3 linked regions of the Homo sapiens genome follow. The protein of the gene in region 3 interacts with the protein of the main gene of each other region in a pairwise test. Each region holds a gene or a part of one and is shown on either strand. Other genes may lie near its edges. The genes, in order: ZBTB44, CA9 and GLRX3.

What was found.
Region 1: the proteins of GLRX3 (region 3) and ZBTB44 interact in binary tests that used the Homo sapiens proteins (3 or more experiments, as listed by UniProt).
Region 2: the proteins of GLRX3 (region 3) and CA9 interact in binary tests that used the Homo sapiens proteins (3 or more experiments, as listed by UniProt).

What each region holds. Positions count from the first base shown.
Region 1 is NC_000011.10:130,255,916-130,259,567, forward strand, and holds part of ZBTB44 (zinc finger and BTB domain-containing protein 44), read right to left. Parts: intron 1-3,652. UniProt on the Homo sapiens protein: May be involved in transcriptional regulation.
Region 2 is NC_000009.12:35,672,320-35,676,071, reverse strand, and holds the start of CA9 (carbonic anhydrase 9 precursor), read right to left. Parts: upstream 2,145-3,752; 5' UTR 2,113-2,144; coding exon 1,710-2,112; intron 535-1,709; coding exon 505-534; intron 312-504; coding exon 141-311; intron 9-140; coding exon 1-8. UniProt on the Homo sapiens protein: Catalyzes the interconversion between carbon dioxide and water and the dissociated ions of carbonic acid (i.e. bicarbonate and hydrogen ions).
Region 3 is NC_000010.11:130,167,270-130,170,921, reverse strand, and holds part of GLRX3 (glutaredoxin-3), read right to left. Parts: intron 1,490-3,652; coding exon 1,432-1,489; intron 1-1,431. UniProt on the Homo sapiens protein: Together with BOLA2, acts as a cytosolic iron-sulfur (Fe-S) cluster assembly factor that facilitates [2Fe-2S] cluster insertion into a subset of cytosolic proteins.

The sequences.
Region 1 (3,652 bases), on a different chromosome or scaffold from region 3:
AAAAAACACCCCTTCATGCTATAAACTCTCCTGAAATAGCCTACCAACCAAAAAAAGCCCAGCACCAGACAGATTCACCAGACAGATTCACAGCTGAATTCTACCAAAGGTACGAAGAGAAGCTGGTACCATTCCTAACAACAGAAAAAGAGGGACTCCTCCCTAACTCATTTTATGAGGTCAGCAACATCCTGATTCCAAAACCTGGCAGAGGCACAACACAAAAAAAGAAAATACCAGGCCAATATACCTGATGAACATTGATGTGAAAGTCCTCAATAAAATACTGACAAACTGAATCCAGCAGAATATCAAAAAGCTTATCCACCAGGATCGAGTTGGCTTCATCCCTGGAACGCAAGGCTGGTTCAACACACGCAGATCAATAAACGTAATCCATCACGTAAAACAGAACCAATGACAAAAACCACGATTATCTCAATAGACGCAGAAAAGGCCTTCAATAAAATTCAACACCCTGGCTGGGCGTGGTGGCTCACGCCTGTAATCCCAGCATTTTGGGACGCCGAGGCAGGCGGATCACGAGGTCAAGAGATCGAGACCATCCTGGCCAACATGGTGAAATCCCATCTCTACTAAAAATACAAAAATTAGCTGGGTGTGGTGGCATGCGTCTGTAGTCCCAGCTACTCAGGAGGCTGAGGCAGAAGAATTGCTTGAATGAGCTGAGATCACACCACTGCACTCCAGCCTGGTGACAGAGTGAGACTCCGTCTCAAAAATAAATAAATAAATAAAAATTAAAAATAAAAATTCAACACCCCTTCATGCTAAAAACTCTGAATAAACTAGGTATTGATGGAACATATCTCAAAATATTAAGAGCTATTTATGACAAATCCATAGACAGTATCATACCGAATGAGTAAAAGCAGAAAGCATTCCCTTTGAAAACCGGCACAAGACAAGGATGCTCTCTCTCACCACCCCTATTCAACACAGTACTGGAAGTTCTGGCCAGAGCAATCAGGCAAGAGAAAGAAAGAGTATTCAAATAGGAAGAGAGGAAGTCAAGGGTATTCAAATAAGAAGAGAGAAGGTCAAATTGTCTCTGTTTGCAGATGACATAATTGTATATTTAGAAAACCCCACTGTCTCTGCCCCAAAACTCAAGCTGATAAACAACTTCAGCAAAGTCTCGGGATACAAAATCAATGTGCAAAAATCACAAGCGTTCCTATACACCAGTAATAGACAAGCAGAGAGCCAAATCATGAGTGAACTTCCATTCATAATTGCTACAAAGAAAATAAAATACCCAAAAACACAACTTGCATGTTCAGCACATGCATCCCAGATCTTAAAAAAAAAAAAAAAAAAAAAGAAAAAGTACATCTTAATCCTTGCTACCAATGTATGTGACCTTATTTGGAAATAGGGTCTTAGCAGATGTAATCAAGTTAAGATGAGGTCATGCTGGATTAGGGTGGGACCTGAATCCAATGACTGGTGTCCTTTTAGGGAGAGAGAGATTTGAAGCCAGTGGCAAAACAGAGAGACAGGGAAGGTCATGTGAAGACGAACGCATATACTAAAGCACAATATCATATACTGGAGCTACAAGCCAAAGAACACCAAGGATTGTGGGCAGCTGCCACAGGCTGGAAGAGACAAGGAAGGATTCTTCCCTACAATCTTCAAAGAGAGAAAGATCCTTCAAAGGGAACTAACACCTGTCGTTCAGATTTCTGGCCTCTGACTATGAGAGAATAAATTTTTTTTAAACCATTCAGTTTGCGGTACTTTGTTGCAGCAGCCCAGGGAAACTCACACAGAGGGTAAAAGCACAAGAAACTAACAAAGTTAATATGGTCTTCCCGGTTCTCCAATATTTTGGACAAATCTTTATTATTCACTAGTGGCTTTTCTTCTATCCCTTCCCAAACCTGAATATAGGTATTCCCCAAGGTATCCCCTTGGTTTTGGCTCTTCTGTTTTTCCTATTGAGATTGAATTTGCCACTACTAGTAGAAAAGTCCCAAGTTGGGAATCTCACTTATCTTTTCTACTGCTTTTGAAATGACACTGCTTGATCATCATCCAAGCACAATTTACACAGAAGTGACCTTGATAATTTACTCTCAAAACTGGATTCCCACCACCTTCCACTGATTTTCATACGGCACTAACTACATTTAATAGATGCTAAAATGCTATTGATTCATATGATTGCCATTATTCTCTATAGCACTAAGGAAGAAAAAAGCAACTGTAGAAGACTGCCAACTGTAAGACATATCTGGATTCAGAAATAACAAAATATGAAAAATTGTGACTTAGAATCAATGGAATATAATAAAGTGTTACCATTATTTCCTAGTCATCAGAGTACTTTAACCTCTCCTGTTCTTTCAATATACATATTCAGTATCATCAGGTACTAAGTCTTTCTTTACAAAGTCTTGTAATATCTATTTTCTTTCACATGGTTTTAAGTCTTCATTCACACCAAGATAAGTGCACTGCAATTGGTCTCTGAGACTGTCTCTGTAAAACCAAACTCACTGCATGTCAATAACAGTTTTCCTAAAATATCTGCATGTTTTTGTTTTTATCCCTTTAATGTAGACTCCTTACTACCTACCACTAAGATAAAATCCAAGCTTACTTGGCCTACTTGTGGCAGACACTGCTAGTTGCATACTCAATATCCATTTTGCTCTAATTTTGTTCAAGGCATTTAGGTACCCAACTAATATACATTATCTTCCCAGATTCCCTTGCAGCTAGGAAAGACTATGTGACACAGACTAGCAGAAGTTTTTTAGGGATTTCTGAGAACATAGGTGCTTTCTTGATACAAAGCATTGCCCCTTTCTAGAATACAAAGCTGAAGATGAAATGAGCATCTTATGGATGAAACCAACAAAGTAAAGATGGCAGTTTATAAATATACAAGTTGCCTAGGCCACTGATTATATTGCAGATTCACTGTACCAGCCCTGGACTTTTATTCCTGAACACTTTGTGATAAAAAATCACAAGCATTCCTGTGCACCAGTAACAGAGAGCCAAATCACGAGTGAACTCCCATTCACAATTACTACAAAGAGAATAAAATACCTAGGAATATAACTTACAAGGGATGTGAAAGACCTCTTCAAGAACTACAAACCACTGCTCAAGAAAATAAGAGAGGACACAAATAAATGGGAAGACATTCCATGCTCATGGATAGGAAGAATCAATATCGTGAAAATGGCCATATTGCCCAAAGTAATTTATAGATTCAGTGCTATCCCCATCAAGTTACCATTGACTTTCTTCACGGAATTGGAAAAAACTCCTTTAAATTTCATATGGAAATTTAATGAGATACCATCTCACACCAGTTAGAATGGTGATCATTAAAAAGTCTGGAAACAACAGATGCTGTTGAGGATGTGGAGAAATAGGAAATGCTTTTACACTGTTGGTGGGACTGTAAACTAGTTCAACCATTGTGGAAGACAGTGTGGCGATTCCTCATGAATCTAGAAACAGAAATACCATTCGACCCAGCCATCCCATTACTGGGTATACACCCAAAGGATTATAAATCTTTCTACTATAAAGACACATGCGCACATATGTTTACTGCGGCACTATTCACAATAGCAAAGACTTGGAACCAACCCAAATCCCTGTCAAT
Region 2 (3,752 bases), on a different chromosome or scaffold from region 3:
CAGTTGCACTGCGTAGGGAGAGGCAAGTGAGCCGGCCCCGCCCGGTAGGGCCAGCCCAACCCCCGGGCAGGCACTGCCGCGACGGTTCCCTTCCCTGCGCCCCGCCCCATCCCCAAGTCTCGGCGGGGAGACCCCCTCACCACTGTGGCCATTGTTGCGCAGGCGCAGTTCTGGGAGCGGCGGGAGCTGGAAGCCCAGGAGTTCCAGGGGGCGCAGGGCCGGGCAGAAGGCGGCGAGCTGGGGGCGGATATCCACCGGGGACTGGAAGCGGCCCGCGCAGGCTGGGGACACCCGGGGCCAGGGCGGGTCGCCTGGGGTGGGAGAGTATAGTGAGGAAGTCTGACGCCTAGGTCAGGAACTTAGGGAACCCGGGTAGAAAAGGTGAGGGGGTGGGACGGTGGGCGGCGGGTGGGACGCCCGGGACCAGTGTTCAGGGACGGCTGTAGGGGAGATCCACAGAGCTGGGTTCCCAGATTGGGTCTGTGCAGCGGGTGGGTGTCTCACCTCCATAGCGCCAATGACTCTGGTCATCCCCTGTATAAATGAAAAGGATGAACCGCTCAAGCTTAGAGCCCCAATCCCTTCCTGGCGACCAAAACGATGTCACAAACGCAGATGCCTTACAGGAGCATTACGGGTAACAAATGCCTTAAGCGGGCCAGGTGCAAAGCACAGGAGACCGCACCCAAACTCAACACCGCAGCTGGGTGGGCCAAACAGCAATCCTACCAGCTTGCAATCATTGTCTTAGGGTCTGTAAAAGTGAGTGGCTGCTTCAGGCCAGGCGCTGTGGCTCACGCCTATAATCCCAGCACTTTGGGAGGCCAGGGTGGTTGGATCACCTGAGATCAGGAGTTCGAGACCAGCCTGACCAACATGGCGAAACCCCGTCTCTACTAAAAATACAAAAATTAGCCGGGCGTGGTGGCGCATGCCTGTAATCGCAGCTACTTGGCTAGAGGCTGAGGCAGGAGAATCACTTGAACCCGGGAGGTGGAGGTTGCAGTGAGCCGAGATCGCGCCATTGCACTCCAGCCTGGGCAACAAAAGTGAAAGTTTGTCTCAAAAAAAAAAAAAAAAAAAGTGAGTGGGCACTTCAGTCCTGAGTCCCAAATGAGTGAGTACACCATCTTTCCTTTCTCCCTTCTTTCTTCTCCCCACTCATCCCTCTGCCTTGTATGGTCTCCAACCCCTTTCCCCAAATTCCTGGCTTGGGAGTCAAGAAGCCACGTTTCTCTACCTGCTGTGTCCCTTCTTCCTAGGTCTCAATTTCCTCATTGTAGCCTAAGATGAGATGACTTCTACCAGCTCTTCTTGCTTGTCTCTGGTACCCACTTCACCTCCCAAGCTTTCCTTTTCTCTTCCCCTCAAACTCTCTGACTCTCCTTCTCCACCTATTTTTTTCCTCTGTCTGCACATTTTTTCTCTCATCTGCAGTTCTCATCCCTTTCTCTTCTCCAGCCTCCCCCTTCTCTCCCATCTCATCCAGCTCACCTCTCTCCTTTTGCACCCTTTTTATTTTCTCTCCACATCTGTCCCTTTCTACCTCCGAGAGTGGGGATGGGGATATTGGTATGGGACCTCTGGAAGGGCTTCTGTGGGGAGTACAGTCTCCCCTCCTTCCCTGAGTGAACAGAGCCTAGGCTGGGGTATGGGAGGGGAGTCATGAACCTCCTGGAACCTGGATTTGGAGATTGATGACCACTTACCTTCTTTGTCCCTGTGGGCATTATTCTGGGGTTCTTGAGGATCTCCAGGAGCCTCAACAGTAGGTAGATCCTCTAACTTCAGGGAGCCCTCTTCTTCTGATTTAGGCTTAACTTCAGGTAGATCCTCCTCTCCAGGTAGATCCTCCTCTCCAGGTAGATCCTCCTCTCCGGGTGGATCCTCCTCTCTGGGTGAATCCTCTTCACTGGGCAGATCCTCCTCGCCCAGTGGGTCATCTTCCCCAGAAGAGCCTCCTCCCAAGGGGGAATCCTCCTGCATCCGGGGCAACCTCTGGGGATGGACAGGCACCAGAAGCAGCAGTGACAGCAGCAGTTGCACAGTGAGGCCTGGAGCAGGGGCCGGGATCAACAGAGGGAGCCAGGGGCTGGGGCACAGGGGAGCCATGCGGCTGACTGTGGGGTGTCCCAGCACACGGTGTGTACGGGCTGTACGTGCATTGGAAACGAGAGCTGGGTGGGGGAGGAGCAAGCCTGGAGGGGAGCAGGCTGACTCACAGAGCGCCCTTTTGCAGAGATGGAGCCAAAGTCTCACAGGTTTGTCTGGCCCTGTGCCCTCTCCCCCATACCAAAGCTAGGATGGGGGTGGAGTGAGGGGCAGGTGTGTGCACAGGCAGAAGGTTATCGGGGCCATGGACTCAGCTTGGAACCCAAGGCACCACCTGGCACTATGCAGGCTCTCCCTGGCACCACCCAGCTGCTTGCCAGCCAGCCTCAGCTAACCCTGGCCTGCTTCCCAGCTCCAGGCACAGAAGGGGAAAGGCAGGGGAGCTGGGGCCCCCATGTCCTCTGGCTGAGAGGGAAAGCAGCTCATGTATACATCCCTGACTCCACCAGGAAGCAGGTAAAGAGGTAGGGCAGGCTGCTAGGGGAGCCCGAGGGTGAGTTAAGTAATGGGTATGTGGGAGACAAACTTGAGCTTGAATGAAAAGCAAGTGTATGTGTCAGAGGGGCTCTGATAGGTTTAACCTATATTTATTTTTCAACACATTACTCTCCTGCTCAAAAGCCTTCATTGGCTCCCCACTGCCTGCCACGATATGCACATTGTGTACTTCTGACTTCCAACTTCCTTCAAAACCTTGCCCAAGAGACCTTTCCATCTTGTCTCCTACTACTCTCCCTCATACTCTAGCCAAATTAAACTATTATTTTTTTCTCCAAACCTTTTACCACCTTTGTTAATCTAGTTCTTGCTCCCTGAAATGCTATTTACTATTGCATTCAACAAATATTTATTTAGTACTACCATAGGTCCAGCACTGGGCTATGGACTAGGGACATGGAAATGAATAAGACACGGTCCCTCATTTTGGGAGGCTGAGGTGGGTGGATTGCTTGAGTCCAGGAGTTCGAGACCAGCCCGGGCAACATGGCCAAACCCTGTCTCTACTAGAAATACAAAAAAATTAGCCAGGTGTAATGGCATGTGCCTGTAGTCCCAGCTACTCAGGAGGCTGAAATGGGATGATGGTTTGAGCCGAGGCGGTTGAGGCTGCAGTGAGCTGAGACTGTACCATTGCACTCTGGCCTGGGTGACAGAGCAAGACCCTGTCTCAAAAAAGAAAAACAAAAACAAAAACAAAAAACGCTACCTGCCCTGAGCAGCTCACAATCTAGTGAGTGAGGGCAAACCCTGTCAATATCATCATATTGAGGGAAGAGAGATGAATTCTGCTTTAGAAGATAATATAGAAGTAGGCAAATTTGATCATGTCCTTGAAGAAATACCAGTTCCATTGGTAAAAACAATAGGGAGAATGATATTCTGGGCAAAGGGAAGGCATAAAATATTATGAGCAGGAGAGTGACAGAATCCAGTTCTCATACTAGGTCACGTTGAGGGCTTGAGGGCTAGTATGGAGCACAGATTGCAGGGGAAGACTGGGTGCAAGGAGATGGGGCAGAAGAGTGTGAGGACACCAAGAATGGGCTTAGGCCTCCCAGTTTTTTTCTTTTCTTTTCTTTTTCTTTTCTTTTCTTTCTTTTTTTTTTTTTTTGAGACAGAGTCGCACTCTGCTACCCAGG
Region 3 (3,652 bases):
CTCTTGACCTCGGACCTGCCTTGGCCTCCCAAAGTGCTGGGATTACAGGCATGAGCTACCGCATCCAGCCTCATTTATTTTTACATTACAGAATACTAACACTTTTTTGAGTTTATGAAAATCTTAAGCTTTTTTCATGCCACAGGACTCCAAATTCCAGCAATCTTGTGGAAAAGATATGGTACCATGTCAACATTTTAATAGCCCCAATAACATTGTTTCCAAAATGTATTAATACTTTCTAGGTTTCCAGAAAAAAATAGTTTTGAGAATAAATATCCACTTAAACCATTACCGAGAATAAGAAAAAATGTCACTTTATCATTACTAGGAATTATTAACTTCCTCTATTGTTTCAATACACTGAACCAAAATCAAAGAATTTAGGCCCTAACCTAATGTTTCCAACATGCTGAAATTTATATTAACATTTTCTTTGTTACTGTTACTTTCATTATTACCTAATTATATTAACCAGTTATGTTAACTAATTAGCTTCATTATACTAGTTATGTTAACTTATACACTAGTTATGGCAACCAGAGTCTGCCCTGTGAAGTATTGTGTCCCTTTCCCAATGAGCAAAGTGGTTCTCCATGTCACTTGCCCGGTGCATCTTGCTAACAAGTGAGGCAGTTTCTTTATTCCAACAGCCTCACCTTTCAAAACTTTGGTTTCTTTATCTCTAAAACAGGCCAAAGTCTGTCCAACCCTGCCTACTTCAACAACTGATTGAGAATTAAGTAGAGGTTCAATTGCTATGAAAATTACAAAATATGATATAAATGTGTATGGCTGGTTTCTGGAAATTACCACTCTGATCTCAATCTGAAAGAAAATTAGTTCTGCTCAAACTATCGGTGGAAGTAATCTATCAAACTTGATATTCAAAATGACGCATAATCAATATGTACTTACATCAAAAAGCTGTAAGAACCATCCCATTAAAAATGAGAATTGCTGACCATTTCACTCATTCATCAAACACACAGAGCACACCTGCTACAGCCAGGGTTTGCTCCTCCACTGTCACAAAAGGACGATCTAGGGGTGCAAACCCAAGCACGACCAGGTTCCCTGCATTCAGGAAGTCCACTGACTCAGCTGCACACTTCAGCAGTCCACAAACTCAAACAAAGGATAATGACATAACAACTCATACAACCAGTAAAGTGTTAACAGTGTTGACCACATTAGCTGACAAAGTTTGGCAGCAGAAAGAAATGCACCCCACTGAGATGTTGATGATAAAGTCAAGCAAAATGTAGATTACTTTGTTTGATCTCCGTAAGCACCAATTAAGGCGTGGATAACTTCCTGATATCGCTACAGCTTCATTAGCTAAAGCTAGGAAAAAGATTTAACTGTCCCCTTGTTGCAGATGTTAACATCAAAAGAAATTACAAATAAAACCATTTTTGAGTTCTTTACCTGTTTGTTTCCTTTCATAAAGAGCATCACAGAAGCTTTATTTGTCAGCACTTTGAGCCTAAAGAGAGAAAATTGATATAAAACGGCTCAGCTCAATTATGCAACACCACTTTTCCTCCGCTTCGTGAGTAACATGCATATTTGAGGGATGGCAGGATGACAGTTCACAGCTTTGAGTGGTATTAAACAAGCAAATGCGTTGACATTTTCCTTGATTTCATTCTCTCCCTAAGCCACTGTAAAACACAATATGGCTTTTAAGGCAACGAATGTTCCTTCAAGTTGCAATTTAAGCCCATCAACTCACAGTAATAAAAAAATAATAATAATAACCAATTCAGTAAGGAATTGTTCAATAAGGGGCCTATATATTAAGCCCATCCAAAACTTCCAGAACTAGATCTTGTGTGCACCATCTTCCATCATGATGCTGCATACCACTGTACACGTGTAAAGCTCACAAGGTCGGACTGCAGGGTGACAGCGTTAAACCTCAGAACATCAACTAATGCCAGATACTAAAATCAAATTCTCTCATCTTAACATGTTTTATATTTTATATAGTCTTTCAAACATCATAATCTAACATGCTGTCAGGAATTTTAATTATCTGTATACAGCCACAAGTTTAGTCACAAATCTCAAGAAAAGTCAGTGCTGGGACAACGGGTCACTAAAGAACCTAAGCCCCATGGGGTCACGCCACCATGTTCTCCCAATTCACAGCTCAAAAATCTCCTTAGAGGTTGGGCGCGGTGGCTCACGCCTGTAATCCCAGCACTTTGGGAGGCTGAGGCAGGTGGATCACGAGGTCAGGAGATCAAGACCATCCTGGCAAAACACGGTGAAACCCCGTCTCCACTAAAAAGTACAAAAGAATTAGCCGGACGTGGTGGCGGACGCCTGTGGTCACGGCTACCCGGGAGGCTGAGGCAGGAGAATGGTGTGAACCCGGGAGGCGGAGCTTGCAGTGAGCCAAGATAGCACCACTGCACTCCAGCCTGGGCTACAGAGCCAGAGTCCGTCTCAAAAAAAAATAATAATAAATATCCTTATAAACTCATCCCAAATGAAATGCATCAATCACGCACAAAGCTGTATCACTTACATTGCCAACCGAGTGGGATTAGCTCAAGTTCAGAAAAATATGAACAGATATAGGAATACAATGCTGACCCTGACAACCCAACTAACTAACCCAGTCACCTGGATACAGGGAACCACAGCTCACAAAGTACTGCCAAAATACATGTCACAAGTCCATGAACTCCACTTCCTACACTCTGCTCACTCGGAGCCCTTTAAATTATTACTCCAAATATGCTGAATTTTCCTTCCGACATAATTCTAGCCCGTTACCCTTTGGTGTCTGCAAGCACAGATTTAGAAGCAGCACATTAGGAAACGGAGGTCTGATGGAGACAAGGCCATTAACAGCGGCAAGTGCACTCAGCAGAGAAGGAAAATCAACTGAAGAGCAAATACAAGCATATAAAAAACACAGCTGTCTTTGGAGACCACACAGCCTCCATGGGCCAAGGGCATCACCAGGCTACAGGCAAGAACCACACATGAAGACGCCCAGAGTCAAAAAAGGGATGAGGAGTATCATTTTCTCATGAAGAACACAGGAAATGGTACCAACCACAGGACAGAATGCGGCACTCAAAGATCAGCCTGACATACGTGGATTGGACGCTGTTTATAGAAATTATTAATTAACGACAGACAAATGAGGTATTTATTATTATTAAACACTTTTAGAAATTCTCAAGATGTTACATGGCAAAAAAAAATTACCAAAGGAAGGTTTATCTTACAATCTCCAGCCCCAACTATGAATGGCTGATTGCTGATATAATAAATTCCTTTTTAAAGTTCTATATTAATTTTACTGCAATAAAAATCCCATTAAGTTGCCTTACACACCAAAGTCCAACATTTCTGTAAGAGAACGTCTCTAAAAGCCAAGTGAGATCCTTGATAAAACAAATACATGTTTCACACCTCCAAAATCTGTTCATGTAAGTTCTCGTGGTCTAGAAAGGCCATGAGAAGTGCTCAAAGCTTGTTGCGAGGTGATGAGTTTTTCACACTCACCACTTGTCACTCAGTGCTCTGGCGTTGGGGCAGCACCCGCAGCAGTCACCAAGGCTGCACCCAGTAAAACACGAGTGTGCTGAGGTTACGCCAAGGAGCAGTGACAAAACAACTGGACCCT